Regions from separate parts of the Homo sapiens genome. Here region 1 is linked to region 2. The links come from fine-mapping of genetic effects on gene expression. A gene starts in region 2. The other region holds a variant in brackets. All regions are shown on one strand. Distances are between the middles of the regions.

Region 1 (16,013 bases), 120 kb before region 2:
TGGAACTAACATTTGTCATGTCCCAGGCCTTATGCTGAACACTGGGAATATAGTAGGAGACAAAATAGATAAAGGGTCTGTCCTCTTGGTGCAGGATTACATTAATTGAGTGAATTTATGTCAGATTATGTAACCGATTTGACTGAGCAGTCTCAACAACTTGGGAATAAACATAGAACTATTTTATTTTTCCAGTAAATGTTTTCAACTCTGCTCTGTTAATCCTCCATCTCACTGGATAGCAGGATCCCTAATGCGATCTCAGTCCTAGTCTATAACTTGCTGTCCCTTTCAGTTATTAAAACATAATGTCTGTGCTTAAAACTCAGTTCTGTTTATTTTAAAACTTGAATCAGTTGATCAAGGCTCCCCTTTCCTCCCATGCAATTAGACTTAGCTTAGGGGAGTACGAATGGAGTGTGGTGGCTCTTTCACACCACACCCTCCTTTCCTGCAGTTTTCATCCTCCTAATTCCAACTCAGAAGGGTGAGAAAAGAGGTTGTCTGGTTATGGGACAGTCCAGGCAATGCTGATGTTCCCTTTCTCGTGGTAATCGCCACTGATGAAGCCACGATAGACATAGTAATAGACATGGTGTGGGGAGCCAGTGCCCTAACCGGCTCATTAATGAGGTATTTATCCCAAGTAGCTTCCCTAGGATTTGGCAGTCTCTTGAGAGACTCAGCCACATCTTCCAGCTTGGTTCCTCGTACTATATTCCTCTGATGTGCATACCCTTTTTCTCCACACTGGAACAGCAAACCTACGACCCCAAATCTCAACTATGCTCTGTGGTTCCAATTCTGGAGTGTATGTATGAGCATAGGCTAGATCCATCTTCTGTACCTATTTGGAAACACACATTTCCTACCTGGCCTGGCATTGCCACACACTGTCTCAGACCACTTTCCTGATATTTCCCCTCCTCAGGTAAAAGCGAATCATCAAGCCCAGTGGCAGCAAGTATATCCCACTAGGAAAGGAGATAACTAGTCTCCAGACACATTCTTATTTACCAGTACCTATCTTGCTCACCACGCCCCACTTCTTTGGCTTACCCCTTCTCTGTAGAGAAATCAGAAGAGTGAACTATTTCATGATGCTGCCCTCAATGGCCACATGGTGTATTAGCCAATTATGCAGTGGCCCGTTCCCCAGCATGTGAGATGCCTGAAACTAGCAGGCCTCCAGAAAGGAGACCTGAGAAATTACAGGTGAAATGCGTGTGGGAAATAGACCTGGAGCAATCCAGATGCATAGTGTCTGTTTTGTAGGATCGATTAAAGTTGAACATAGGCCTACTCTATGACTCAGCAATTCTTTTTTCTAATTGTAAATTGACAATTTATAATTGTATAAATGTATGTAATTTGTATAATATAACCAATGGGACACAAAATGATGCAAAACAATGTAGAATAATTAATATAGTTAAATATTTATCATCTCAAATTCTTAATATTTTTTGTGGTGAGAACATTTCAAATTTACTCTTAGCAATTTCAAAATGTAAAATACTGTAACTATATTCATCATGCTGTGCAATAGATCTTCAAAAAGTAATTCCTCTTGTCTGAGATTTTGTACCCTTTGACCAACATCTCCCCATTCTCCCCATGCCCCAGCCTTTGTACCACAGAACCATATTATCATATTCTACTCTCTGCTTCTATTAGTTCAATTATTTTAGATTCTACCTATAACTAAGATCATGCAGTATATGTCTTTCTGTGCCTGAATTATTTCACTTAGAATAATGGCCTCCAATTACATTCATGTTGTCACAAATCACAGCATTTCTTTTCTTTTTTAAGACTGAATATTATTCCATTATGTATACAGGCGACAGTTTCTTTTCTATTTTTTTCTGAGATAAGGTCTCACTCTGTTGCCCAGACTGGAGTGCAGTGGCATGATTATAGCTCACTGCAGCCTCAAACTGCTGGGCTCAAGCAATTCTCTTGCCTTGGCTTCCTGAGTAGCTGGGACTTCAGATGCATGCCATGATGCTGAGCTAATTTTTTGTATTTTATATTTTACATAGACTGGGTCTCGCTTTGTTGCCCAGTCTGGTCTCAAACACCTGACTTCAAGTGATTCCCCCACCTTGGCCTCCCAAACTGCTGATTACAGGAATGAGCTGCCATGCCCAGCCTACCATGTTTTCTTTATTCATTCATCTGTTGGTAGACGTTTAGGTTGATTCCAAACTTGGCTATTGTAAATAGTACTGCAATGAACATGAGAGTGCAGATGTCTCTTTGACAAACTGATTTCAAACTTTTGGAGCAAATACTCAGAAGTGGGATTGCTGGATTATATGGTAATTTTGTTTTTAAATTTTTTAGGAACCTCCATACTTTTTTCCAAAATGGCTGTACTAATTTACATTCCCAAGAACAGGGTAAAAGGGTTCCCTTTCTCCAAGTCCTTGACAACACTTATCTTTCATGTTTTTGATGATAGCCATTCTAGCAGAAGTGAGATCATCTTATTGTGGTTTTAATTTGTATTTCTCTAATAATTAATGTTGAGCACTTTTTCATGAACAGTCATTCCTAGATATACTCAGGCTATTGGTTCCAGGACCTCCTTTAATACCAAAATGTGAGCATACTCAAGTCCCACAGTCAGCCCTGTGGAACCCACAAAATTCACATATAAGTAGAACTGCATAGTTCAAACCAGGATTGTTAAGGATCAACTGTATCCTGTTGGCCATTTGTATGTCTTCTTTTGAGAAACATATGACCCAACAATTCCACTTCTAGGCATATACTCAACAAAAATGAGTATATATGCACCCCCCAAATGGTACAACAGTATTCATAATGACATTTTTCATAATAGCCCAGAACTGGAAATAAATAGTAGAAATGTAGTAGAATGGCTACATACATTGTAGCATTCCCACAAAGGAATACTTTATAGCAAAGAAAAGAAATAAACTCCTGCCATATGCAACATGGGTGAATTTCACAAATATAATATTAAGGAAAAGGAGCCAGAAGCAAGAAAAATACATAATGTATGATTCCATTTATATGAAGTTCAAAAGTAGGCAGCACTACAAGATGGTGCCTGGTGCCAGGATAACAATTCCCCTTGGGGAGGGGGTGTATATAACAGTGGGAGAATGGGTGCTATCAATGTTCTATCTTTTGATCCAAGGTTGTTCATTGAGCTCTATACTTATAATTTATGCAGTTTTATGTGAAGTAGGTGAATTACACTTCAATAGGGTGTTTACTAAGAAATAAGACAAGGTACTTCCTTTAATAAAAAGAAAGTTAGTAGTTACTATATAAAGACTACACCCAAAGAAACCAACTTAAGATATGCAGCTTCAGAATTCAGGGCTAACATATCCCCCAGTGAAACATGACTTTTCATTTAGAGCAAACTTCTACATTATTTCGTTCATTTTCAATTCCAAGTGCTCTTTGCATGTACAAAAATGAAGTGAGAACTGTCGATGTGTTGGCTCCATTAGCAGAAGAACTTTTCAAAGTGTTAAATGATGCCAGTTTTATATCTAAGTCTTCAGATGCTTCAAAGAGAAAGTCAGTTAGGTTAAGTCCAATAATAGCTCATTGTTTTCATCTGCTGCAGCAAATTGAGGTTTGAAGTTCACTCTGACAAAAGTGAAATAGTTCTCATCATTGTGAATGCTATTGTAACTTCAGTTTAAAATGTCAATATTAAAGATAAATTTACTTGGTTTTTGTAGCTGTAATATTTTGAACTAATGTACATAAGTATATGATACTTTATTGCAAAGAGTTTTAAAATAGAACTATAAGATAGTTCTATTACAGACCAATGTAACAATGCCAATATGTTACACAGTTAATACATTCAAAAAATTACATAATTTTTATTATTTTAACCTCCCTCTTTCAAAGGTGTCCCAGTTAAGTTACATGTTAAATATAAGTTAAGTTATGTGGTCTCCCTATTCATGACAAATAGCTGAATCACCCTTCCTTTCTCTAGCAAGCCATCCCAACACTCCTCCCTTCCCTACTCCAGACAGAATGAATCACTCAAAGCCCTATGATGTGGTAAATCTGCCTGAGGTGGGGGGTGATGGAAAGAACATTCAAACTTCCACAGCTTTGCTTACGCTTTTTTCAGTTTGAAATGTACACAGCCTATGTGGGGAACTAGTCCATCAGTTGTGCAGGATAATGAAGCGTAAAAGAGTAGGAATGAGGTGAAGTTGGAGAGCAAAATCTTTCAAAATCTGGCCCCAACCAAAAAGTTGGAAGTTTATCCTCTAGTCGATGGAAAAGTCTAAAAAGTTTCCACCAAAGGGAGTGACAAGATCCCATTTACACCTTTAGGAAGATTGTTCTAAGACTGCAAGGGATAAATTGGCAAGGACAAAGACTAGAAGCAAGATCAGTTGGTTTAACTCAGCAAGTGTCATCTGTGTTTCTGCAAAAAATAAAATTCTTAAGGAAAGAGTAAAAGGGAAAAGAAGAGATTTTTCGAGGCAGAATTAAGAGGATTTGGTGACAGATAGGTAATGGGATTAATTAAAAAGCAAATGTAAATCACTTAGCTTAGGGCCCAGCCCATAGTAGACATCCAATAAATATTCATTTCCCTACCTCTTAAAAGTGCATATACTTTACAACGAGTGTGTTTTTCTGTTCTTTGGTTGCTGGAATAACTATGGCCCATATTCTTTTTTTAACTAAATAATATATTTTCATCTGGGAAAAAAAAACTTAAATACAATGAAAATTGGAACAACCACTTTGGAGAATTTTTGGTAATATTTGGCAAAAATTGGCAGTTTGAGTAAAGTCAAAGATACTAATACTCCAAGACCCTGCAAGTCCACTTGTGGCTATAACCCATACTGAAACTCTTACATGTATGAGAGTCTTATGCATAAGGATGCTCATTGCAGCATCGTTCATAATTACAGAAAACTGGAACCAATGAAAACATCTATGAAAAGGAAAATGAGTAAATGAGCTGCAGAATATTCATATAATGTAATAGTATACCACACTTACCAGCATGGATAAATCTCGATAACATATTAAGCAACACGAAAAAAAAGTTGCAGAGGGATATAGTATGACACCATTTAAATTAAGTTTAAAAACCTGTTAAAATATTATCTAATAAGGGAAAAGTCTATACAAGAGGGGTACATAGGAGGTCTTAATTGTATGTGACATTTAATTTCTATTTTTCCTTATTGAAACATTTTTATTGTATTCTCTTGTTGGAAGGGGAAGATAGGGACAGATAAGATGAATAGAATATGACATTGACATTTAATTTCTTTGAAAAAAAAGTATGGAGTAATGTTAGGATTTAATAGGGGTGCATTTTCTGGTGTTCATGACAAGGTTATTTTTATTCATACATAAAACATTTTGCAATAAAATGAAAAGAATAATGCAGTAGAATAGTCAGATGTCTATTCTCCTCTATGCTTCAGAATAATACTGTGCCCAGTATTTGCTAAAGGCTTCAGGATAGACATTGGGTCACATCTTTAACCTTGAATTATCTCCACAGAAACAGCAACCACCTTGGTGCACTAGACAGAGAGATGGGTGTGGGTGCTCTTTTTGGCTCTAACCTTGAGCAATTCAATAATTGTTTCTGTAACCTTGTGCAATTCATTTCACTCTTGCCCTCAACTCCCTCAAATCCAGAGATCCAATCAATACAGCTAAGGTGACAGCCTGAATCTTACAGCAAATCTTAAAAATAATACCAGGGGTAGCAACCATGTATCACTGTCCCAGAGCCTCATGTAAGCATTTTCACTAGGAGGATTAAATGAGACAGTGCATTCATGTTCTGTTGTCCCTAATCTATACATCAGGAAACAGGCTTAAAGAAGTTAACTAACTTGCCAATGACACACAGATAGAGCAGGGTTTTTAACCCAGATGTCACTTTCTGATTCCAAAGCCCATGCACGGTCTTAACCAGACCGACCAGAGGACTCTTGCTACGTCAGATCCTTACTGTTAGTGAGTATCCCTTTTAATGTTCTGACTAGGATGGCCATGTAACTTATCCTGAAAACTGAGATACTTTGAGTGTAAAAGAGGGCACTAATAATTACTCTGGGACCACAGGCATAAACCAGGACTGTCCCAGGCTAACTAGAATACATAGTCACCATAGTAATGAGACTCTGGCAAACACATTCCAGCAGGCTTTTCAGATATATCACACAAGCACAATGGTTTTCTAGTAGTAAACAAGCCGATTGATTTAGATTCCCAGTTTAAGGTTCTGTTAGCACGAGAAGTCCTCTTAACCCAGCTGGCAGAAATAGACGGCACAAGGAGTGCCTTCCAACAGCGTCTGCCCATAGCTGTTGCCCACAGAGGAACACAGCAGCTGCTCCAAAGTCTTTCCAGGGCTTAGCCCTTATCGCCCTATTCACATTCAGGAGCATGGAGTTTCTATTTCCTCCCTTGCTGAAGCATTTAAAAAAATCTGTCTGCAAAGAAGCATTCACTCCTGAAAAACTTTGATATAAGAATGGGACGATGTTGCCCTCTGGTGTTACCAAGGAAGTGGCAAGCAGCTACACAGACTCGGTCAGGGCAAGGGTGAAGGCAAGGGAAAGCAGAACACTAGCTCTTACCAAGCAAGTGTATGAACATGTCTTCCTCCTTAATCCTTACGACAACTTTGCAAAGTCCATCCTTATATTCCTCATTTTTATAGATAAGGAAACCGCTCAGAGAATGAGTACTGTGTTCAAGGTCACACAGCGAGAAAATGTATTGAAATTTGAACCCATATCTATCTAGCATTAAAGTCTATGGTCTTTCCTTATATCATTCTATAGGCCAATATAAAAACTGGGGTCTTCAAATATTCAAAATATATTTATTGAATACCCATTTATGCCAGAAATCGAATATGAGGAAAGACTGACTTATTCCATAAAGAAATTTCAGGTTAGGCTTGGCACGGTGGGTCACACCTGTAATCCCAGCTCTTTGGGAGGCCAAGGCTGGCAGATCACTTGAGGTCAGGAGTTCGAAACCAGCCTGGCCAACATGGCGAAACCCTGTCTCTACTAAAAATACAAAAATTATCCAGGCATGGTGGCGCACACTTGTAATCCCAGCTTCCTGGGAGGCTGAGACATGAGAATCGCTTGAACCCTGGAGGCAGAGGTTGCAGTGAGTGGAGATCGTGCCACCATACTCCAGCCTGGGCAACTCTGTCAAAAAAAAAAAAAAAAAAAGAAGGAAACCTCAGAGTACTTTAAAATGAACATGTATGAGGGATAGACTAGTCACTCAGTGCCTGTGATTATGTGATCACTTTCACGTGTAATGCCCTCCTACATCTTTGTAATATTTGCCTACATCCTTTGGAAACATTCACTGTTTTCTTCACCAGTCCTGGTCTCTCTCTTGTTTTTGACCCTCCTGCCACTTTCTCGGTAGCAGTTTTCTTAGTCACCTTGTATTACAGTCATGGGTTTATCTAATTCCTCTGTTCATCACCCTTGTATTATATAATAAACTACCTGAGAGCTGAGATGGGTGTTTCACATTTTTAAATTTCAAACCTCCGTAATACCCTTTCACAGTGCTTCACTAAGAATAGACCCTCAAGGTGTTTGCAGAATTTGGACTGCATTAGATATCAGCTACTTGATGAGATTTTAATTCCAAGAGGCTAATTTTTTTTTCCAACTTGGTAGCATCCCATTGTGTCCTCTTACAGGGCCAATTAGCCATGTTAAACGTCTAATAGCCTGGCAGGATCAGAGCTCTCCCAACTCACATCCCTATACTGGTGAAAGCATAAGACAACGAACCCTGGAACTGGGAAATGGGCTGGTGGTACGGCCTCTCTCTGCATCTCCAGAGTGGAGGCTGTAGGGGCAGTGTTCTGCTATGCTTGTTTCTGTCTCCTTTCATTCCCCCATTCCCCTCTATATTTGGTAGTTATTCTGTTCTACCCTAGCACTTTCTACCCTCTCATTCAACTGCTCCCTTAAATAGAACCTTTCTGCTTTTTCCTTTCCCTAAATGGCTTTCACTGATTCTGACTCTGGCGAGTCCTCTGTTTTCAGGGAAATGTGGCTAACCTCCTGACCTGTAATTCTGCTACACAACAGCTGTCTTCCCACAGGCCATATATTAACCCTGTTTAAGCAACTCTTTAAATTCCTGACATGCTCAGTCAGCAGCAGCATTAGCAGCAGCACCATCTGCTAGGAGTTTAACCCTCTTGCTCCCTGGACTTGAATGGTGGAGGTAGATTAGAAACTCAAGCTTCCACATGTAGCTTGGTAAGTCACACGTTACCTAAATGCTCCCCTGTAATTCCACTGATTCTAAACATTAGCAAAGTAAGTTTTGATATTAAAAAGGAAAAATTCTAGTACATTTATGTTTCAGTGATATACAATAGGAAAATATTAGAAACAACTTAAATATCCAATAAATACAAAATTAAGCCATATAATAGCACAACCAAATCATTTTGAATGGCTTCATAATATTCTGTGGTTTTGACATATATGTGTTAACCTGGAAAAATACTTAAGTGAGAAAAAAACAGAATATAAGAAATAATTTACAAGTAGTAACCTTCTTGATGTACTTTTATCCAA[A/C]CATTTTTTTTCCTACGTATATATTTTTTAAAAGATAGGAAAACAACTGCTATTAGTTTAGAAGACATTTCCAGATATTTATAGTAGTAACAAGTCAATGCCAATATAATACTCTGCTCTAGGTACAGCATGTTAACAACATAAACCCACAGCCAACGGGTAGCCTAAACAATTTTATTGCTTCCACCAGCTCCTGTAACTCTTTCTTCTATTAGCAATTCTTCAATGCCACCCCCATAAAAAATCAACCCTTTTATTTCCCTCTCTTCTGCCCTCTCTTTCTTCCCAAAGTCATCTCAGACTCTTTTCTTGGCACCTCTTTGAGTCACAGATAAGGGGAATAGAACAGCAGAATAGAGCAAATACTTCTCCCATTTTATCTTTTCACCAGGGCTCTCCTCCCTATGTCCCTGAAAGTACACAGGTCACTGTCACTAAAGAAAAACTGGTGGCCCCTGAATACACAATTCCATTGGAAGGTGACAGTCCTACCACTGTAGTTTCAGACAGGCAAGATCATAATTTTGTATAATAATTGCCTAATTCCAGAAAATGGGCACAAAAATATTGTTTGCTTCCCAAAACCATAATGGAGGTTACTCTCAGGCCTTTGCCATACATGCTAAAAAAAAATTCTTATTTCTTTTTCTGGCATTTATTTTCAGCATATGGTGATAGTTGCTGAGAGCCCACGTGACCTAACACTTGTCCCACCAGACAGCTGAGTATTTTTACTGATGGACACTGGCATCTACTTGGAGGAGCCTCTTTAATATGTATTTAGGCAGCAGGTGTTCAAAACACAGTTCAGTCCTGTTATACAAAGAGCCATTTCCAGTCATTCCATTTGTATTCAGAACGTAATCAGATCAAGGAATAACTCTAGATAATATTAGAGAAAAAGGGAGGACAATTATAGGTTCATAACTCTGCCCATCCACTGTAGCTTGGAATTTGGGAAGAGTACAGAGGAGAGGTGCAGATTCAATTAATTTCTTGATAAGTTTTCCATTTTATGAGTTCCCACACTTGATTATATAGCAATACCCTATTCCCTTATAGCACAAACACACATGTATACCACCATGTCACCATGGATTAAGTTCCTGAATATCTACAAGATGAAAGAAGTTGAATTTGGGAAACTTAAGAGCCTAACGCATAAACAGGAATGAGAGACTGAGATTAGTGGTGAACTTATGTCAGTTCCATAAAATTAATAAAACTATAAAAGAGCACAGTAAATAGACTGTTGATAGCCTTTTGTGCAACTTAAATTAGTAATAATGGGTCTGTACTGAATAAAATGGAGAGGAGAAAGATAGGAGTTCTCAAGTCCTAGTGGTCTTGACTGATCTTTCTTTCCATGGCTCCTCAAACTTTAAACTAGTCTTGATTGGAATCTTTTACTCACCCCACCTAAGAAACACAAGAGGAGGAACAAGACTAATGATGAACGATTCATTTAGTTTCAAAGATAGTGAAATTAGGTGTGCCCAAGAATTTCCCAAGAGGCAGTTAGAAATAGAGAACTAAAAGAGATTAGGAGTGGAGACAGACATTAGGGAGTCATCTAAATAGGAATAATGGATGGAAAAAATGAAAAGGAAAGAAAGCAAGTAGGGCTGATGCTTGAAATAATTCAAGACCAGTGGACAGAGAAAATGAACAAGATATAAATTATTTTTCCTACATTATCTTCAAATCTTCTGAAGTTTCACAGAAGCCAAGAGAACAGAGACTTTTCAAAAGAAATGGATGCTTATCATGGCTGAGCATTATAGAAAGGTAGAGGAAAAAAAGGACCAAGATCATTAATTTGATATCTGGGAATAGACAGTCCATCTCTGGTTTCTGGATTCATTACTCCACTAAAATGCGTCTCTCCAGGTAAAGAGAGTTTAAAGACTAAGTGTATGATGAGGGAAACAAAGGACAAGGGTAGACTCCTCCCTTTCCTTCAGTATCAAACTATTTCCCTTCTTTCAAGGTGAGAGGGTAATGGAATCAAACTTTCTGCAGAATAAAAGAGGCTCAATTATGTTAAGAGTTGAGCTGTTGTTCAGTTATGCCAAATAAGTAAATTGGTCCAGATAAGAAAATTAGAAGTTACATTTCTTCTAGTCCTAGTTTATTTATATATATCATACACATACTTGATAAAAACATTTTTTAAACATTAAAACTTCAAAATAGAATTTCAGAAACCTTCTGTCCATTACTTTTAAACCATCACTGGCCTAACTTTTTTTTTCCTTAATGCTATATTATGACCATTTTTCTTGGTCCATAAACACATATTATGCCTGCTTAGGTTTTCCAACATACAGGTATACCTTAATTTACTAAAACAGCCCTGGAGACAGGTCTGTCTCCAAATTCCTTCAGTTATAATTTAACTCTTTGAAACTTTGAAGACATTTTTGATTAATGAATACGAACATAAGTATCTGAATGAAAATGAAAACTGAAGATCCTATAATTCTAAACGGCAGAGTTGGGAGGCTAATTAGTGGTCGTCTAGCCTGATCATCAACAGAAAGCATATTTTCTTCTGTGGTTGTCCAGAAGTAATAGCAAAAAAGTCTCTACGTGGTCAATTTTTAAACAATTCCAATAATTTAGAAACTCTCCCATTTATTATTCTGTGTGACTTTAAGGGAATAAAAGTAAGAACAAAAAGTGGCTATTACAGAAAGACTTATTAATGCCTCTCCCATATAACAATATTAAGTATTTGAAGGGCTGTCATATTTGTCTCCTTTAATTAATTCAATAAACTTTTATTGAGGACTCTGTGCAAAGATGAACCAAAAAACTGCTCCACCCTCCAAAAATGGGTAGTTGCAAAAACCTTCAGTATCCTCTCACCTCCCTAACTTACCCTGTGAATTTCCCAATGGCTCTCTGTCTTTTTTTTTTGTACCCCCTTCTCCCCCCAGAAAAAGTATGCCTGGAGACTGGCCTGCATTAGGATAGTAGAGGAAACATTCATCTTTTGCCTTATTCACATTTAATCTAGTATTCAGTGTCATATAGTTTGTAAGGGGTGAGTTTGCAGACTCAAATGTTTGCAGTAATTAACCAAAGACATCCCCTTAGTACTAATTTACATTATCATGTAAAATGGAGAAACTGGTCATGTGGATATCATTCAAGACTCTTCAGAAACAATTGCTTGGTCACTTGTGTTGGGGAGAAACCCAGTCTGGAGGGTTAAAAGTAGCAGCACATTCTCATGCTGTCAGCCCCTCTAGCAAATCTTTCTTCCTTCCACTGGGAAAAAAGTGGAAGATGTTCCAGGGATCATTGGATCAATGCCTGAATCTAACTTCCTGACCACAGGGTAGAGAATTCACATATTCAAAATATGAAGCCCTTTTTTTCCCCTGAAAGCGTGGTATAGGATGTAAAATATCTAAACTCAAGCTTTCTGAATTTACCTGACTTTCCATAGGTACAGCTCAAAACTATTAAGGGAATAAATAAAAAGTTGGGCAAGTGCATTTTTGGTTTAAAATGGGACTCTTAAAGCAGAAGGGAGTTTCCTTCCCCCTCCCCCACAAAGAATATTTTATAGATGTGAAAATACTAAGAGATTAAAGTTTCAGCAGAAATAAATATCTCAAAGGAGGCACCATACTATTTCCTTTCCATATGTTTAGTACCTCATTTTCACACATCGTTTGTAGTCTCCTAAGTTTAGACAAATCATCTTGGCTATGTAGTTGCAAATCACTAAAGAGAGCCAAGCTCATAGAAGGGAAAATGTATGTTGTTCTTTGGGTTTCTGAATAAGGAAAGTACTTAGGTAGAATCTTATTTAAAAGCTTGCTATTTTAAGTAATTTCATGCCTCTCATAAGATGGTATGTATAATAACTTCACCTATATACTGTATAAAAAATAGGTACTAACCCTAATCAGAACTAATGCTAGAACTACACAAGATTTCTCTAGCATTCATGCTGTTACTACTAACAACATACATAATATATATGATATGGCCATATATTTGCAAGCTTCTCTGAAGTACCATATCATCTCTAGGACTCTATCCACAGCACATAGTGTGTACGTAACTGAGAATGGGATATGCTTCTTGTGCTGGTCATTTGCCTGATTGTTCTCAGATTCATTCTCATCCTTCCCTAATTCTCCTGTATCTGAAGGTGTACATTTCTCAGGCTCCTTTAACAACTGGCTTCTGAATAGGTTTGGCAAATGGGAAGCTTTAATGGATTACTTGAAGAAATACCCTGGAGAAGAGAAGCAGCCAGGGTATTTCTCCCTTTCTCTCTCTGCTTAGTGGCACCTCTGGCAGTGACTGTTTGGTGTTGGTTTTTGTTTTGTTTTGTTTTGTTTTTTTTGAGACAGAGTCTCGCTCTGTTGCCCAGGCTGGAGTGCAGTGGCATGATCTTGGCTCACTGCAAGCTCCACCTCCTGGGTTCATGCCATTCTCCTGCCTCAGCCTCCTGAACAGCTGGGACTACAGGTGCCCACCACCACACCCGGCTAATTTTTTGGATTTTTAGTAGAGATGGGGTTTCACCGTTTTAGCCAGGATGGTCTCGGTTTCCTGACCTCGTGATCCGCCTGCCTCGGCCTCCCAAAGTGCTGGGATTACAGGCATGAGCCACCGCGCCTGGCCTAGTGACTTTTTTCCATAACAGCAACTCCTTTGGGATAATTCTATGTATTTCCAGATCTCACAAGACAGCCACTGAGAAGTTCTAGCTCCTACTAGATGGTTCAGTTTCTGAGCTCTGAGAACACTATGTCTTCCCTTCTACCTCATCAGCCAAAATGGTGGTAGCACTTTCCTGCTTTTCCTAATTTCAGGATTCCTCAATATCTTCTCATTTGGCTTCACAACTCTTCTATTACCTGTGCAACAAGTCCCCTGCACTAAATGTCTTCTGTCTGCTATACACAGAGTGATTTCTGGTTTTCTGAGGGGCTTCTTACTGATACTCCACACAGAAGTCTAAGACTGTGTTGTCATTTTTGATCATGAATGCAGTGACGACCTCCTTACAGGCAAGAAATGGGACACTAGCAATTTGTGGTAGGCAGCGATATCATACTTAAACTATAAGCTGCAGTTTCTCAAGGCATGGTACAAGTTGAAGGCAAGACTTTGGTCAAGTAACTATTGCATTTGACTGTTATGATAGTAATAATAATAACAAGAATTATTACATAGGATGGATGTTTCTGACTGCCCTGAAGAGTATGCACAAAGAAAAAGATAAGCCTAAGGCCTTAAATTTTTTAACCCAAAAATCAAGCTATATAGCCACATTCCATACCTCCATCACCATAAGGCAGATGACTGAGTATCAGGCCCAAGGCTTGATAATGCATCATCAGTTACATGTGTAGTCCTATCAGGTATTTTATGCTGAGGTAAAGGACCTGGTTGGGAAGGAGTGGTACCCGAGACTTTGAAAGGGCAGACAGGGATGAGGTTCTGAATGCTGAATTCCCCTGAGCCTTCCTCTCCAGCAAAAGCAGCTTTCCTTTTGTCAGTTTTTCCATTTAACACCCGAACTGAGGCAAATAATCTTCACTTGCATAAAACCATTGCACGACTTCACTAGTGGCAGATGCCCTAGAAGAGGATGCTTATTCTTCCAGAGCCCATTCAAACCACCCATCGTTTCTAATCTCATAACAAGAGTTTGATCCAACATAGCCCAGATGAAAGTGAATGATCTGCTGCCATATGAAATAGCAAATACACCAAAGGAGCTGCAAAATGTTGTTAATTTATGTTAAATGTAGGGGACATGTATGAAAATATATTCTAAAGGACTATTCAAAAGGACGAAACAAAGGTTGGATCAGGCGGAATTTATTGAGATAGACATGTATACCTGGATTCAGGATTTCCTGTGGTGACTCACTCAAGCACCAGCGGTGGTATCAATCACCTGCTAGTTTAGTAGAATAAGGCCAGTAAGATATGAAGTAGAGATGTTGCTTGGCACACTGAAGAACAATGCTTTCAGACAGAAATAAAATACAAACCACAAATGTAATTTTAAATTTTCTAGCACCCACATTTTAATATGTTTTTAACAAATTATCTCAAGTGCTCAATAGCCGCTAACCATGAGGCTAGTGGCTGTAGTATTAGATAGCACAGTACAGGCAAAGGAGTCTGGAGAATTAGAAATCTGGAATGGATTCACAGCGTGCAAACTGCTTAACCACTGCCAACCATACCCTTGCTTTGAAGGATCCAGAGGACTCTCCTTTTACTAAGTTGTTAAGAAATGCACTGGTGAGGGAAGCATGCTCATATAAAGGACAGTTGCATCCTGTTATATAGCAGCATTAGCTTGTGGTTGTATCACAGTTTAAAATGGCTATAAGTGTGAGAATGGATGCTGAGTCGTAAAAACAGCATATGTACTAATCATTTGCTTGCTTTGTCTTGCATGCATTCCCCACTGTTCCTCTGTTCTGAATGTGTCAAGGAAGCAACGTTTTCTAGGCTTCTTTACCCATCACTTACGGTTAGGTTCAGCCAATGGGAGACCTGGAGGGAAACTGGAGGGAAGAGTGGAAGGAAAGCCAGGGAATTTCTTCTTTTCTTACTTCAGGTAGCATTTCCAGCAGAGCCTGAGCCTTCTCTGATCCCAGCCCTCAAAAGACAGCCCCTCCTTCTGTGATACCACCTCCTATGGACAGCCCTTGCCATGATTCTAACTCCTGACAGGCAAACCAGTTTCCTGTATCTGTTTGTTAGTGGCATCTCTTCCCAATATCTAGTGTCTTGAAGCTTACAGTGGCTTTTGGATGTTGCTAATTTCTGGTTTGCATCACCATCTACTATTTGACTTCATCTTTCCCTTGCCCATTTAACTGATTCACTGCATTATATTTATCTTGATTAACATAAGGTAGCTTCTGTTTATTCAATCAAACTCTGTTTAATGCAATCCCTTATTATAGACACCTCTAATCCATGGGAAAGAGATCACAAATCCCCACAAATTGATATACACTGATCTCTTAAATAAAGCCTACCTGTTTTTCCCTGATGTTTTACAGTTTTAAGTATTCAATACATCCTTATGATACACACACAAACATAGAACTTATATGCCAAGTATTACAGTTTTCTGTGGCAAGATTTTCTAAAATCTGGGAGCACTAATATTACCTGCCATGCGAAACCTGTTACTCTTTGCCACAGGATAGACGCTCCAGGAAACAGATTTTGAAGTAGAAACTAGAATTCAAGAAGTCCTTAAGACAGTTGTCAGGATCAAACTTGGGAAGTGAAAAAGCAATGTAGTCACAACAAAGGCCTTAGACATTTGCGTAAGGAGCTCTGGAGCTGGCCTGTCCCTTCAGAATTGCCAAATATTGA
Region 2 (16,013 bases):
AAAGTACAAAAATTAGCCTGTAGTCCCAGCTTCTCAAGAGGCTGAGGCAGGAGAATCACTTGAACCTGGGAGGCGGAGGTTGCAGTGAGCTGAGATCAGGCCACTGCACTCCAGACTGGGCGATAGAGCAAGACTCCGTCTCAAAACAAAAACAAGAAAGGAATGGGGAAGAAAGGGAGAGGGAAAAAGAGGAAAATCTAGCCCCTCTTCCTCCAGCAAGATAAGCATTATTATCTGCCCCTTATTACCTGACATAGCATCTTTATTTTTCTAATCCACATTTCACAATTCTCTCAAAACTCAATCCTAACACTCTCTCACAAACACACACACTCACACAAACAAACACTCAACAATCTAGGAAATGAACTTCCTCAACCTGATAAAGGCTATTAATGAAAAACTTATAGCTCACTACTTTCCGCACACTGCCTGCCTATGGGCTAGCCTTTCTCCGCAAGGAGCAGTTTAAAAAAAAAAAAAAAAAAAATCACAGCTAACATCTACTTAATGGCAGAAGATGGAATGTTTTCCCCCTAAGACTGGGAACAAGACAAGGATTGCTGCAACTCAAGTGACTTCTCTTGACATTTCTTTTCAGTAATGTTCTGGAGGTTCTATCCAGGGCAATTAAGCAAGAAAAGGAACTAAAATGCATCCATATTGGAAAAGCAGAATTGAAACTTCATTTGTTTGCAGGTGACATGATATTTGTATGTAGAAAATCTTATGGAATCCACTTAAAAACTATTAGAACTGGCCGGGTGCAGTGACTCACACCTGTAATCCCTGCACTTTGGGAGGCTGAGGCAGGTGGATCACGAGGTCGGCAAGACCAGCCTGGCCAACACAGTGAAACCCCATCTCTACTAAAAATACAGAAATTAGCCAGGCATGGTGGCAGGCACCTGTAATCCCAGCTGCTCAGGAAGCTGAGGCTGGAGAATCACTTGAACCCAGGAGGCAGAGGTTGTAGTGAGCCAAGACAGTGCCATTGCACTCCAGCCTGGGCGACAGAGTGAGACTCCATCTCAAAAAAAAAAGAAAAAAAAAACTATTAGAACTAAGAAATTCAGCAAGGTTGGAGGATACGAGATCAACAAACATAAATCAAGTGTATTTTTATGCACTTGTCATGCAAAAACCCCCCAAATTTTTTTTAATTCCATTTACAATATCATCTGGAAGAATAAAATACTTGGGAAGAAATGCAGCAACAGAAGTATGAAACTTATATTCTGAAAACTATGAAACACTGTTGACACTTAAAGACGATCTAAATAAATAGAAAAACATCCCATGTTCATGGACAGGAAGCCCTAATATTCAGATGGCAATGGTCCCAAAATTGATGTACAGATTTAACACAATCCCCATCAAAATTCCAGCTGACTTCTTTGCAGAAACTGACAAGCTGATCCTAAAATTGATATGGAAACACAAGAGATTCAAATAGCCAAAACAATCTTGAAAAAGAAAAAAAGAGTTTTTCATTTTTTCTTCTCAAAAGGAAAAACTTTGAGAGGTTTGAGGACTCAGACCTCTCAATTACAAAGCTACAGTAGTCAAGACCATACTAGTATAAGGATAAACATATAAATCAATGAAATAGAATTAAAAGTCCAGAAATAAATCCTCCACACTTACAGTTAATTAATTTTGGACAGGGGTGATGATACAATTCAATGGAGAAAGAACAGTCTTTTCAATAAATGGTACTGGGGCAACTAAGTACCCACAGGCAAAGAGATATTAGACTTCTACAACAGACCATGTACAGAAATTAATTCAAAATGGATCAAAGATCTAAATGTAAGAGTTAAGGCTATAAAACTCTCAGGACAAAACAGGGAAGTAAATATCTGTGGCCTTAGATTAGATATATTAGATAGATTAGAAATAGATTAGATATAGATTAGAAATAGATATATTAGATAGATTAGCTAGATTAGAAACAAGAAGTCATTATTTCTTAGATACGACACCAAAAGCACAGCAAAAATAATAACAAGAATTTCACTTCATCAAGCTAAAAACGTTTGTGCCTCAAATGACACCATCAGGAAAATGAAAAGACAACTCACAAAATGGAGGAAAATATTTGCAAATCATATATAAGGGACACATCTAGAGTATAAAAAAGACTCTTACAACTCAATAATTAAAAAACTCATTATAAAAATGGGCAAAGAATTTGAGTCTTTTCACACACTTCTCTCCAAAGAGGATATACAAATGTCCAACAGCACATAAAAAGCATCATTAGCCATCAGGGAAATGCAAATCAAAACCAGGATCAAATCACACCTGCTAGAAGAACTATGATGAAAAAAGGAGATAATAACAATTGTTGGCATGAAGTGGATAAATTAGAGCTCTCATACACTGCTGATGGAAATGTAAAATACTGCGACTGCTTTGGAAAGCAGTCTAGAAGTTCCTCAAAAGTTTAAACACAAAGTGGTATATGTTCCAGCAATTCCACTCTTAGGTACACACCCAAAAGAATTCAAAACATACATACATAAGAACTTGTACATGAATGTTCACAGCGGCATGATTTATAATGATAGCCAAAAAGTCTATGTCCATCAGCTCATGAATAAGATAAATGTGGTGTATTCTTATGCTGACATACTATTCAGCCATTACAAGAATGAAATACTTGCTATGACACGGATGAACCGTGAAAACACGGTAAGTGAAATATGCTTATCATAAACGACCATATATTAAGATTGCATTTGTACAAAATGTCCAAAATTGGCCAAATCTATAGAGAAAGGAAGTAGTAATTGCCTAGAACTAGGGGCATAAGAGAATGAAGGGTGACTCTTGAAAGATACAGGATTTATATTTTAGGTAATGAAAATGTTCTAAAATTAACTATGGTGATGGTTGCACAATTGTTAATATACTAAAAACTACTGAGTTGTACAATTTAAATGGATACTTCTAAGGTATCTAAATTATACCTCATAAAAGTTGTCCAAAAAAAAGCAACCCTTTAAGTAATTCCTGACCCAATTGACATTCCATTTTATGTCTCAGAATGTCTATAAACAGTTTATATCATATTGACTTGCACTAGTTCATTTGTTTTGAAATAACTAAATTACATGCTTTATTTCCCTTACTCACAAACTATAAGCCTCTACATCTTTCATACTTCTCTTTAGAACTGGGTACAATAATAGGTGCACAGTGGGTCCTCAGATTAGGTTTTCAATTTTCAAGATGCAAGATGTTAGAGAAGTATTTACCATGGAGAAGTTAACCAGACTATTCCAAAATCTTCCCTTTGGGAAATAAAGAGATTATATATAACTCCCCAGAGATCCCTAACCAAACTCTTAGAATAAAAAATAAGTAAAGGTGACACAGAGCTGAAGTTTCACATTATAATAAACCTGCACAATCATAGAATAAATTGTGATTCAATTAAAGTTGTCCAGTGATAAAATACCATTTACTGTATTAGAGGTCCAGTGTCAGTGCAGTTAGTAAAAGAAAGTTGTAGTATTTTCATCACAAAGCATGAGCACAAATTAATAATTAAGCCTCTGTTGTTTACTTGATGATTTTATTGGTCTTTCTGGGTTAAGGCTCACATGTATTAATTTTAATAACTTTAGAATTATAAAAACTGCAGCAACAAACAAGAGAATATGGTAAGGTCCACCTAAATGAGATTTCCCTCAAAGTATAAAGTAATCTTCATCACCTATCCCAATAACAGAGGAAGAAAATTCAAAAAATGTGTTTCCTATGAAACTATACCCAGAAACTGAAATTCAGAGTTTTGTCCTACTGATCTGAACTGATTTCAAAATACAAAGAGAAATAACTCAAACTGCCAGAACTCATTAAAGCACAATGACAATCAATAACTGGATACTACAGGAGAGACCCACTAAAGGTTACAGAATCCAACTGTAATGTTCTCTGAAAAATTTATATCTTTAAATAGTTACAGAAACTCACTTGTCATTTAAGCCCCTCAGTGATGAGAGCTTCCCCCTCCCACTCCTGTGACTCTTCCCTCCTTTCTCCTCTCCCCACCACTCTCCACTCACACCCAATTTTACTCTTTGAAGATGGAAAGCAATTCCTAACTATCATAATTCACCTTTTGGATGTAATTTCATAAATATATGCTAACATCTAAAATAACACCATGAAATGCCCCTTGTAGCAGAGATGGCCAAGCTTTCCACCTGCCAGGGACATTTCCCACTCCCCTTGCATTCAAATAAGACTCTGTGACAAATCTTGCCAATAAAATTTGGAGGAATGTTTGTCATTTAAGTCTGGAGTTTCTTAAGAAATGGTCTTCAGGCAATAGGGAGGACTCCAAGGCCCTAAGAAATGGTGGAGTCACAAGATCTAAGTTGTATGAGTCCCTAAACAACATAAGAGGAAAGCCACAAGAAACCTGCTAACCAGGAGCACCTGCACTGGAACTGTCATGAAAGCAAGTAAACTGTCATGAAAGCAAGTAAACATCTGCACTGGAACTGTCATGAAAGCAAGTAAACTTCTTTGAAATTTTGGAATGTATTTATTACTCTGATTAGCATTACCCAAAGTAATACATACAGAAATTCCTAAGTATTCCAATTCTCCCAAATTAAAGACATTAATAACAGATATTTTGGAAAGATTGCTTAAAAGCCCATTTAAGTAACATTAACTTTTAAAATCTAAACAAGTTTCCACCTTGATTTTGTTGTAACATAATTCCTTTAGTCTAAATAATAACCTTAGTACTTCCACTTCATATCCAAATATCTTTATAGTTCAATATCATCTGTTTTCATGATTACTACAGGGAAATGTTCTTCCCAATTCTCCCAAATTAAAAAATATATATATAAAGTCTTTTAAAATAATTCATAAAGTCCAATGAAAATTACTTTACCAAATACTAAATAAGAGCAGATTCATTTCTATTTCTTTGTTTCTAAGGTATTAAAAAGTATCATTTATAGTTTTAAGGTAAGAATTATTCCTTTAAATATAACCACATGGCAGAAGATTCTGTTCAATGTAAATACACACTCCCACAACACACACTTTAAGAAAATCACAATTTGCATTCTAATAGTTGCCCCTAGTTATTTATAAAAATTCAAGCCCCTCAATGATGAGAGCTTCCCCCTCCCCATCCTGTGACTCTTACCTTCACAGAAATTTTTATATAAAAATATGCATAAAAGCTATACTGAATGTGTTGAAATTTTAGTTTGAATTTTAGAAAATAATATTTTTTAAAGCTTATCATTATTGATACAAATAAATTACGTAAGCCCTACTGGGAAACCCGGCATTTGTAAATAGGGCCATGACAAACTTAAACCAATCAAACTCCCACATTCTCTGTCCTGTCTTTTCCCAAAACAAAAAGAAAACAATCTTTATGTTAACTTTTCTGTTATCTTTACCTTAAATTCCATACCTCTCCATGACATTATTTTTTCCACACAGCAGTTAAAATTTAATGAACACATTTCCTACTCCAGAGAAAATACTAAAAATGGAAAGTTATTGAAAATTAAGTGGACAGAGGATTTTACCTTATATTCAGAGAAATATTCTAAGAAGTTTTATTTACCAAATCAGTCAACATGAGCTAGCATTTTTCGTAGCATTTAAACTTTGGGGATCTATCTAAATTTTGGTTCCTTGATCCTTTTTAATGTTTAACTGTATTGAAACATACATGTGCTATATAGAGGTTGAAAATTTTTTTCCAGGGCTACAAAACGAAAATCATAAAGAATAATGAAACTGAGAGATGGTCTATTTGAAAATATGAAAAAAAAATTAAGTATGACTATTTTTATAAATAACTAGGCTATTTTAATGACTATTTTTATTATTAGAAAAAAACTTCTTATATACATTAAAGTTTATATATATACCTTTTGTATACTGAAGGGCTCTGAAAGATTCCATTGTCTTTTTTACGTTATAGTTACTTAATATTGCTCTAAATAATTAATCATATTTGTGTTTGCAAAGGTTCTTCAATGCCCATAGTCAGGGCTGCAGGAGGCAGAACTAAAATTTAACTAAGCATCTACTACATGCCAAACATATGTTTTCTCATTCTATTCTCAAAACGACCTTACTATAAAGGTATTAGCTCTCTGTGACTGATAAAACTGTGGCTTATAGATATGTTACCTAAGGTCAAACAGCTAAGGAAAAATCACACAGCTGGGAGGCTAACTGAAGTCTGTAAAACAAGTCCTTTTCCCACTAACTACGTATGTTAAATTGTTTTTCCAGTAGTGGTAATAGAGAACAGCTCTTCGCCCCTCCTTCTCTTCCCTCCACTTCCCCGTGAACAGCATACACTATTTCTTTGTGAGACCAGGTGCAAAGAGCAATCTCTGGCCATGACACAGAGTACGGCCTACAAGGATCGAAACTGTATTATGCTTTTATCCACAGCACGGTTCTAGCTAAATGATCTAACTACATACAAATGTAATGAGGTTGGAGTAGAAAAGCACATTAGCAAATAATTATCCAAATGCCATTTGTATTTGGTTCTGAAATGTACTGTAGACCTATTGGCAGCAGGTTTATCTTTACAACTGGGTTTTGCTTAGGCTATTCTCAAAATAGCTTTCCAGCAGCACATACTGAGTAGACAACAGAGGTTGCTTGATCTAGTTTTTGGAGACTGAGGAAAACATGTTTGTTGAGCCTATCTTGATTGACAAGATAACTAGAGGCAATACGGTAAAATGTAACACTGTGCTTCCAATGTGTACAAACGGCTCAGCTAAACTCCCTGAACACAATCCACCTAAACAGTCTAAGCTCAATAGCCGACCGAGTTAAGCAGGATGACAGCTCCAGTAACTTCCTCTTCCTCACCCAGCTCCTCAGCTCGGCGGCGCGTACACGCCTCTCCCCCTAGGAGGCAGGATAAAACAATTTCAAATGCACAAAATCCATCCAATCCCACAGGCCAGGAAAGCCAGTTTCCCTTTCTTCCTCAGCCCTTCCAAGAAAATGTTTGTCTAATTAAAAAAAAAAAAATCTTACCAACGGCAAAGTATTTGCAACAAAAATCCAAAATATTTACTCAGTCCCTCCACACAGCCTTAGGGGAAGGATGAAAAGAAGGGAACACGACACCGCGTATTCCCAAGACTGACTGTTCTGATTCACTTTCCTCCCTCGGGTCCCACAGCCGGCCGGGCGAAGGCTTGCAGTTGGAACGCCAAAATAAGCCTTCGCCTCTCAGGAGACGCGGAGGCGGCCACGGCGACGGCAATCGGCGAGTCCCGCCTCCGACCCTCACCTGCCCAGGCCCGAGGCAGCGCCGTGGGCTCGCGCGGGCTCGCCGTCCCGGGAGGCGTCCGGGGAGGTGGGCGGGCGCCCAGGCAGTTAGGCCGCGCTGCAGGCCGGCGCGCTTCCTGCCGCGGCCGGGGAACGGCGGCCCCGGGATCAGCGGCGCGGCACCGACCAGCAGCTCTCCCAGCCCCGCTGCCGCGCGTGTGCCGCACTCACTCAGCCCTCCCCGGCCGGCCCCCTAGGAGCAGCTCTCACCTGCGAGGCTCGGGAGCCGCAGCCACAAAGCGGGAGGGACACGCCACTCTGGGGTCCCGGCCCCGGGCCACCCCCGACACACACACACACACACACACACACCCCGGAACCTTCGCCCGCCTCTGAAGAGACGCGGGTCAGCCCCGCCGCCCCCTCCAGTCACCCGACACACACCCACTCGCCGTGGGTCCTCGGGCCGCCTCCCCGCCCGCCAAAGTCCCAACTCGCACACCCACACGCACATTTGTCCCTCTCCCACCTCATTTCCCCGGGGACGCGCTCCTCTTCCCAACACTCTCGGTCCTACTCGGAGGCAAAAGAACACTCTACCTCATTCTCTTCCTCTGGCCCAGAAGCAACAGCAGCCATTTCCCCGCGGCAGGGGAAACACACACACAAACACGCGCGCGCGCGCGCACCAGGCCCCCACAGATGCTTCCCCTCCAGAGCCGCGGCCGCAGACGCAGACGCAAACACAAACACCCACGGCGGGCCTCGCTCCCGCCCGCCCCGAGGGGAAGCCGCGGCGGCACACAGGGCCCGTAACCGGGGCTCGCGGGCGGGCGCGCAGGGAACCCGGGCCCGGGGTCTCGGGGGGCCCGCGCCCCCTCCTCACCTGCATTCAGCGCGCCGGGGTCCGGGCGGCGGCGGCGGCGGCGGCGACGGGGCGGCTGGTGCTGGTGCTGCGGCGGCGGGGGAGGCGGCGGCGGCGGTGGCGGCGGGGCTGAGGGCAGCAAAGACATGCAGGCAGCCCGCCGGAGGGGAGAGGCACCGGCCGGAGGGGATGCGGGGCGGGCGGGCCGGGCCGGGCCGCCTGACGAACGGCAGAGGCGGCGGCGCGGAAGGCGGCTGAAGGGAGCGAGGAGACAGACCGGGGGTCGGGAAGGGGGACGAGGGCCGCGCCGCCGGGCTTCGAGGACAGTGACCCCAGGCGCGCAAGAGAGGCCCCGCGGCCGCGGCCGCCGGCGCGAAGGCCCCAGCCGAAGGAAGCTGCGCCCCCGCAGGGCCGGAGCCGCGGCTACTGCTCCGAGAGCCACGCAGAGCCTGGCCTTGGCCTTGGCCTCCTGGTGCTGGGGCTGCCGCCGCTGCGGGGGTTGCCGCTGCGCCGGGTGCTGCTGGGGCCGAGGTTGAACAGAGACGCCAGCTTTCGGTGCCTTCGCTCCCGCTCACACACGTTCACACCCCCGAGGGCCGGGGGAGAGGCGTCCGGGCGATATCGGTATTGAGATTAATAACAAGGTGCAGAGAGTGCGAGAACGAGGAGGGTTGATTGACGTGGAGGGGCTGGCGGGAGTCAGTCACTCCCCGGCGCGGAGGGTTGGGGTGAGGGGAAGGAGGCGGGGCGGTGACGGGGCGGAGCTCCTACGCAGCGCCTTGGCCCCGCCCCCCGTGCGCCGCGTTTTGTCGCGGTGAGCGCGCGGAGGCCCGGGCTTCTTAATGGTTTTCTGTTTTGCTCTGGCTGTTTTCTCACTCTTTTTTCCTGGCCTGAGCGAGGAGCGGGGCTGAGAAGAGTGGTAGAGTTTCAGAAACCCACATCCACAGAGCCTTGGCGAAGAGACGGGAAACCGCCTCACCCCGGGTTCTTGTGTGGGCGCTGTTTACTGCACCCTCCTCGCCCGAGGCGACCTGACAGCGAAGCAGAGCGTAGGTCTAGGTGGCTGAGACGCCAGGGGAGGTGAAGTGACCGAAGGAAATGTTTCCTGACATATTCGGTGGATTTTTTTTAAAAACATATAGCATCTGTAAGTTGTATCGTCAAAGGTAAATAAAAGAACCTGTGACGCTCAGCGATAACCCGGTCCTATTTTCTAATTCTCCCTTCTCGTTGTAGACTTTAGTTTGTTGTTTGTAGCTTATCCATGCCATCTACAGAATGAAAACATCCAAATGCAAACTAGAAATAGTAGTGTTTACTTGGTGAACCTGGCTGTGATACTTTAAGTTTCTGGGGTTTGTTTTTGTTTTTGTGGGCCAGCTTCAGCTTTTTTGGGCCAGCAGTCCAAAAAGCAAATTACACCGGCTGTGGAGGCAGAGTACTGCTGTTGCAGTTTTGCACAATTTTAATCTCTTTCTCAATGCATGCCCGGGCTCGTGTATTTACCAGTGTTGGTCAAGGGTATATTAGCAATGTTCAGTATTTTTTCCCCCACAGGAGTGTTTAGCACACTAAGCACGTTGCGTTGGTTGCAATTCATCTTAGGCCTTATTACTGAATGTAAAATGCCTTCATCTCTTGGGGGAAAAGGTGCGGTGAAAATGCAAATCATCATTTAGCTAAAACTGAACAGCTGTTACAAGAGTCCATAATTGCAGAACTATTGCACCACTTTCATCTTGGCACCAGGATGGGTGAATGAGTGAGTAAAAAAGCCCCTCAGTTCACAAGACGACAGACTATTTTCTTTTCTACCTATGTTAATTTTCCATTTCCCTCCCTAGCAACACCAGCCCCACACCATCTTCTGTGAAACATGTCAAAATGGCCTTAAGCCTGGAAGAAGTCTCACTCTTTCCCAACTATCTAAGAGTCTAGGCTGACATAAAATGAATAATTATCTTTGGCTTTGTAAGCAGCAAAGCCAAGCAAGTCACTTCAGGAGTCCAAATAGTGGACCTGCCTCAATGGCATCTTGCCACAGTATTTCTCCGTAGCACACAAACACTCTCCCAGGGAGAAATACCACCAATTATAGAAGGAAAGAGGAAAATAAATACCTGAAAAAATGTAAATCAGATAATGTGATAGCCTCACAGATTTAAGCATCTTTAAATAACAATAAATTTATATGAATTTTCTGTGAGTATTCAATGAATTTTCATTCATATACAATAAACACATATGGAGGGCATATTATGTTCCAGATGCTATGTTTAGCATTGGAGACACACAGCCAAGCATATATAGTCCCTTTTCTTAAGTAACTCACTATCATTGTAGGGGAAGCTGACACATAAACAGGAAATTCTCACAGAACAAACCAGAAATGAAAGTATGAGAGGTGACACAAAATTAATAGTCACAACAATGTCTAGGAGGATGGGCTGACAGCACTGGCATTTACACGTGAGCCATTTGACATCTGCCCACTCTCACAGGCTGCCTAGCAGTAGTGACAGGTGGGGAAAAATGACAGGGCCATTGTGGATGTTAAAGAAGCACTAATAAATGGTGGACTTTGGTGGTCCTGAAGGTCAACTTTATATATGGGATGTTCTTTGTTGGCCTCTAAATTTTAAGTAGTAAATGCATCACAATCCATGGTGGGGAGGGGTAATTGTAACTTTCAGAGTTAATAGTGGACAGTGGATGTTGTCATAGGATCATTTATTTTAATGCAGGTTAAGTTTAGAATTTACTCTCAAAGATGTCCTCTTTATACCATATCAAATTGATTGACTCACTAAAAACAAAAGGAAAGCAATACTTTTATATGTTAACTATATTATCCAAAAAATAGATTGCTGTTTTTCTCATTTGCAATTAGAATGACATTGGAGAAATAATAGTTTTCAGATAGTTGGCACTATACAAATGCCAAGAAATTGTCTTCAGTGAGATTAAAAAACAAACAGGCCAGGCGCAGTGGCTCAGGCCTGTAATCCCAGCACTTTGAGAGGCCCAGGCGGGTGGTGGATCACCTGAGGTCGGGAGTTTGAGACCAGCCTGACCAACATGGTGAAACCCCATCTCTGCTAAAAATACAAAATCAGTTGGGTGTGGTGGCACACGCCTGTAATCCTAGCTACTCAGGAGCCTGAGGCAGGAGAATCACTTGAACCTGGGAGGCAGAGTTTGCAGTGAGCCGAGATCTAGCCATTGCACTCCAGCCTGGGCAACAAGAGGGAAACTCTGTCTCAAAAAAAAAAAATAGTTCCTCATAAGATTCCGCTTCAAAAGACACCCCAGAAACGACAACAAATGAGTAGCACTTTAGCCATTGTTAAGAAGCAGTTTACGGGAGGCTGAGGCAGGAGAATTGCATGAACCCGGGAGGCAGAGCTTGCAGTGTGCCAAGATTGTGCCACTGCACTCCAGCCTGGGTGACAGAGTGAGACTCTGTCTCAAAAAAAAAAAAAAAAAAAAAAGAAATTTTATAGTGGATCAAAGTTTGCTACAGAGAGTAACCTGCTTTCGATATCTCATTTCTGAGGATTTTTCACGTTTGTCAGTTATTGCAGTTTTTAAGATTAGAAATAATGCAATAGGAAAATAGGTGGGTGTGGTGTCTCACTCCTGTAATCCAACATTTTGGGAGGCCGAGGCAGGCTAATCACTTGAGGTCAGGGGTTCGAGACCAGCCTGAAAACTCATCTCTACTAAAAATACAAAAATTAGCCCGGTGTGGTGGCAGGCACCTGTAATCCCAGGTACTCAGGAGGCTGCGGCAGGAGCATTGCTTGAATCCTGGAGGAGGAGGTTGCAGTGAGCCGAGGTGGTGCCACTGCACTCCAGCCTGGGTGACAGAGTGAGACTCCATCTCAAAAAAAAAAAAAAAATCTCTTTAAAGAAATGATTTATCCAATTGAAGCTTCTGGCTTAAGTGTGGCCTTTTTGACCAAATTGGTTTAGTAGCAGCAGTATATAGGTACAATTTGTTCTGAAACAACAATTATGTTTATTTGTATTATTAGAGAATTGGTTTATTCCTACTCAATGAAAGAAAAAGGTGCTTCATGTTCTAGAGACCACCTGTGTCTTTTCCAAATTCGCAATTAATGTTTGAGCTGAATAAATATTCCTATCTCTCCGTGTTTTGTTGGTAACACAGGTAGCGGGTCCTATAAGGTCCCTTATAACTGTTCTTTTGTCTCTTTTCTGAAATTCTGTTGAGCAGCTTATTCAAAAGACAAAGATTTCAATTTTTTTATTTAAGAAATTAGTACTATTTGGCCAGGTGTGGTGGGGCTCATGCCTGTAATCCCAGCACTTTGGGAGGCTGAGGCAGGCGGATCACTTGAGGTCTGGAGTTTGAGACCAGCCTGGCCAACATGGTGAAACCTCATCTCTACTAAAATATAAAAATTAGTCTGGCGTGGTGGTGTGTGCCTATAGTCTCAGCCACTCGGGAGGCTGAGGCAGGAGAATCACTTGAACCTGGGAGGCAGAGGTTGCAGTGAGCCGAGATCACGCCACTGCACTCCAGCCTGGGCAACAGAGTGAGACTCCATCTCAAAAAAAAGAAAAAGAAAATTAGTACTATTTGATAATCTATTAAATTTGATTTTTGGGGGGGGTGGGGGACAGAGTTTTGCTCTTGTTGCCCAGACTAAAGTGCAATGGCACTATCTCAGCGCACCTCAACCTCTGCCTCCCAAGTTCAAGCAATTCTCCTGCCACAGCCTCCCAAGTAGCTGGCATTAGAGGCATGCACCACCACACCTGGCTAATTTTGTATTTTTAGTAGAGATGAGGTTTCTTCATATTGGTCAGGCTGGTCTCAAAACCTCAAGTGATCTGCCTGTCTTGGCCTCCCAAAGTGCTGGGATTATAGGTGTGAGCCACTGCGCCTGGCAAATTTGATTTTATTTAATACATACTTTCATACTAATAGCCACATAACAATAAAAATGTCACATTTAAGTGTATTCAGTAAGGTATAATTAGTAACAAATATATTTTACATCATATTTATTAATAAAAAATAACTTTAAAGCAAGTATTAATCAAGATAATCATGAATTTTTACTTCCTGGACCTCCTGACAGGGCCTTCAAACTATATTTCAGTGACATAGTCTTACTTTTACTGAACTACAATCTTCCCCATCTTCCTATCTTGTACATATTTATTCCCCTTTCTCCCTCCCTCCCTCCCTCCTCTGTCTCTCCCATCTCCCACTTATTCTTATATTTCTTACCATCTACTGTGGGCATACTCGTCCAAGACACGTGGCTTTTCTCATTGCCTCTGCCCCTTTCTGGGGTCTTCAACTCTCTTTCCATCAATCTCCTACTTGTTCCTTTCTCTGGAGTGGCTGTGGATGGATGACACCAAGGATCATTCCCACTATCTTAGCCAAAGATGAACATTTTTCACCATTATTAATAGTGTGCCATGTGATCCATCAGTTCTCCATAAAATGATAAAGTAAGCCGAGTTCATCTTTGAACTTTGAAGGCAGATGTCCTACCTCCCCTTTCTACACTTCCCAGCTCAAGTCCCTTGATCCTGAATACATTAGAATCTCCACCTCAACCCCACCAGTTAACACCACACTCCTATATTCCCAAAATTGTTTTACTAGGCGAGCACCACCACCACCAATAAATATCCAGTGCTTCATTTTGTCTACGCCTTGGAGGTGACTGGCATGCTTTCCAATTAATAAAATCTATTACAATCAGCCCTCTATAGCTGTGGTTTCCACATTCCATGGATTCCATACCCTTGGTTTCAACCAACCTAGGATCAAAAATACTCAGAAAAACAAGTGGATGGTTATGTCTCTACTGAACATGTATAGATACTTATTTCTTGTCATTACCCCATAAACAAAGTATAACAACTATTCACATAACATTTACATTATATTAGGTGTTACAAGTAATCTAGAGACGATTTAAAGTATGTGGAAGGATATGCTTAGGTTATATGCAAATATATGCCATTTTATATAAGGGACTTATGGATCCATGGATTTTGGTATGAGGGGGTCCAGAAACTATCCACCAAGGATACTGAGGGATAACTATTTTAAAGCTGTACTCCAAGCATCTTCTTGAGGTTTTCAAAGGTATGTTTCAGAAGCTACATAGAGTACACAAAAGGAACCAGGTAGATGGGTCCTGAACAAGAAAGCCTGTGTTTTATCTCTTAATATATTGACCATCTATTTGTCTGCCCAGTAACCTTTTTCTTTGAACAATGCTCTCTGTCTTTGGGGAAACTATTTCTACCTGCACCATGATCGGTAATTCTAGTGCAGCTACAGCTCAAAGAATCCCCCAACTTCTTGGCTACAATGGTGGACATAGGACTCAAGTCAAAGCAAGCAGAGTTCTTCCCCAGGATGTTTTCAGGTGGAACTAAGGGGAGAAGGGCTATTCCACCATAGCAGTAGAGCCCAGAAGGAAGTCAGAACGGTCAATGGCCTTGTGTAGAATGAAGCCACCACTCAAATGAGAAATGTAAAGAACAATTCCTGCCGGTGCACCAGTCTCAGGTTCTGGTGATCCCTGAGGTCCCAGCTGCACCTTTTCACATAATATAGCTAAATTAACTGGTAAATTCTCTTCTACATCCAAACTAACTTGAGTTAGACCTCTGCAACCAAAACATCTGAATACATTGTGTTTCTGCATGAGAGTTCTTTCAAAGAAAGAACTCTTGAACTTTCAATAAGTTCTTTCAAAGAAAGAACTCTCGAACGTTCAATAAGTTCTTTCAAACTTATTGCTGCCCAATAAGTTTGAAAATCACTGAACTAAACTAAGTCGTTATGATTGGTGGAATCGTAGTCTACCAAACGTTGAAGATCACTTGGTCCTACTTCTGCATTTTCCACATGAGGAATCTGAGGCAAAATGACTTGCTGAATGAACATCACCCAGGCAGTCAGTGTTAGAAACTGGTCTCTGGATACCTAGTTCATTTGTTCTCTTTATTAAGCTTCTCTGTTTAATTCCTCCCAAAGGTATTTTTATGAGGTAATTATTTAGAAATAAACCTTAACCTAAAAGAATAAATCAAAACAACGGCAATTTCAGACACTGACTACATAGTGGGAAGATACTTGGTGGCATGGAGGCCATAATGGATCCCTTTTCCTCTTTGAGCCCCTCAAACTTTGAGCCCCTTTTTCATATTGGACCCAAACAAACTTTAAATCTTAGATGATCACATCTACAGGTCTTAACTACCATCTTTATGCTTACAACTCCCAAATATACATCTTCAATCCAGAGTTCTCATCACACATTTAGATCTATACTGTCAATTTCCTCCTGGATATCTCCACCTAGACAGGCTATACACATTGCAAGATATATATGTCTAAAACTGAGCTCATTGTCTTTTCCCCAAAATTGATTCTTGGTCTTGCATGACCCTCTGTTATTAAAAATGGTACTATCACGCTAAAAATCATGTAATCATATGAATAGTCACCTAATGCAGAATCCTAGGAGTAATCCTTAACTTTTCTCTCCCAGCCTCACCAAGATCTACCAATTCTGCCTACTAAATATTTTCATTAATCTAGCCCCTTCATCCTAATGCACTCCAGAGTTATAAGTCAGCCTGTCAGCTCTTGCCTGAGCTTTTTGCATTTTGTCTATTGTTTTAGTATCCTAAGTATAATCCTAACATCCTCCTAAAACATACCCTGTTCATATTAATTACTCTGCTCTTTAAATGACTTTACATAATTTATAAAATAAAGCCTAACTTCACAAGCATATATGTTCCTTAATGATTTGCCCTTCTCTTACCACCACCACCTGCA

Evidence for each region. PIP is the estimated chance that this variant, and not a neighbour inherited with it, causes the effect.
Region 1: its variant is fine-mapped to the expression of CNOT6L in unexposed skin (GTEx, PIP 0.95).

What each region holds. Positions count from the first base shown.
Region 1 is chr4:77,691,933-77,707,945 of GRCh38, forward strand. No RefSeq gene overlaps it. Among named protein-coding and RNA genes, the nearest start is that of CXCL13, 94 kb to the left of the region's middle. The variant A/C (reference allele first, on the strand shown) is at 8,631.
Region 2 is chr4:77,811,405-77,827,417 of GRCh38, forward strand. CNOT6L (CCR4-NOT transcription complex subunit 6 like) reads right to left here and starts at 7,964. Exons shown (of 12, transcript NM_144571.3): 1 at 7,900-7,964. The coding sequence starts at 7,904. RefSeq lists silencers at 7,261-7,660, 7,741-7,810, 8,301-8,400, 8,441-8,600, 8,861-9,010 and an enhancer at 10,454-10,503.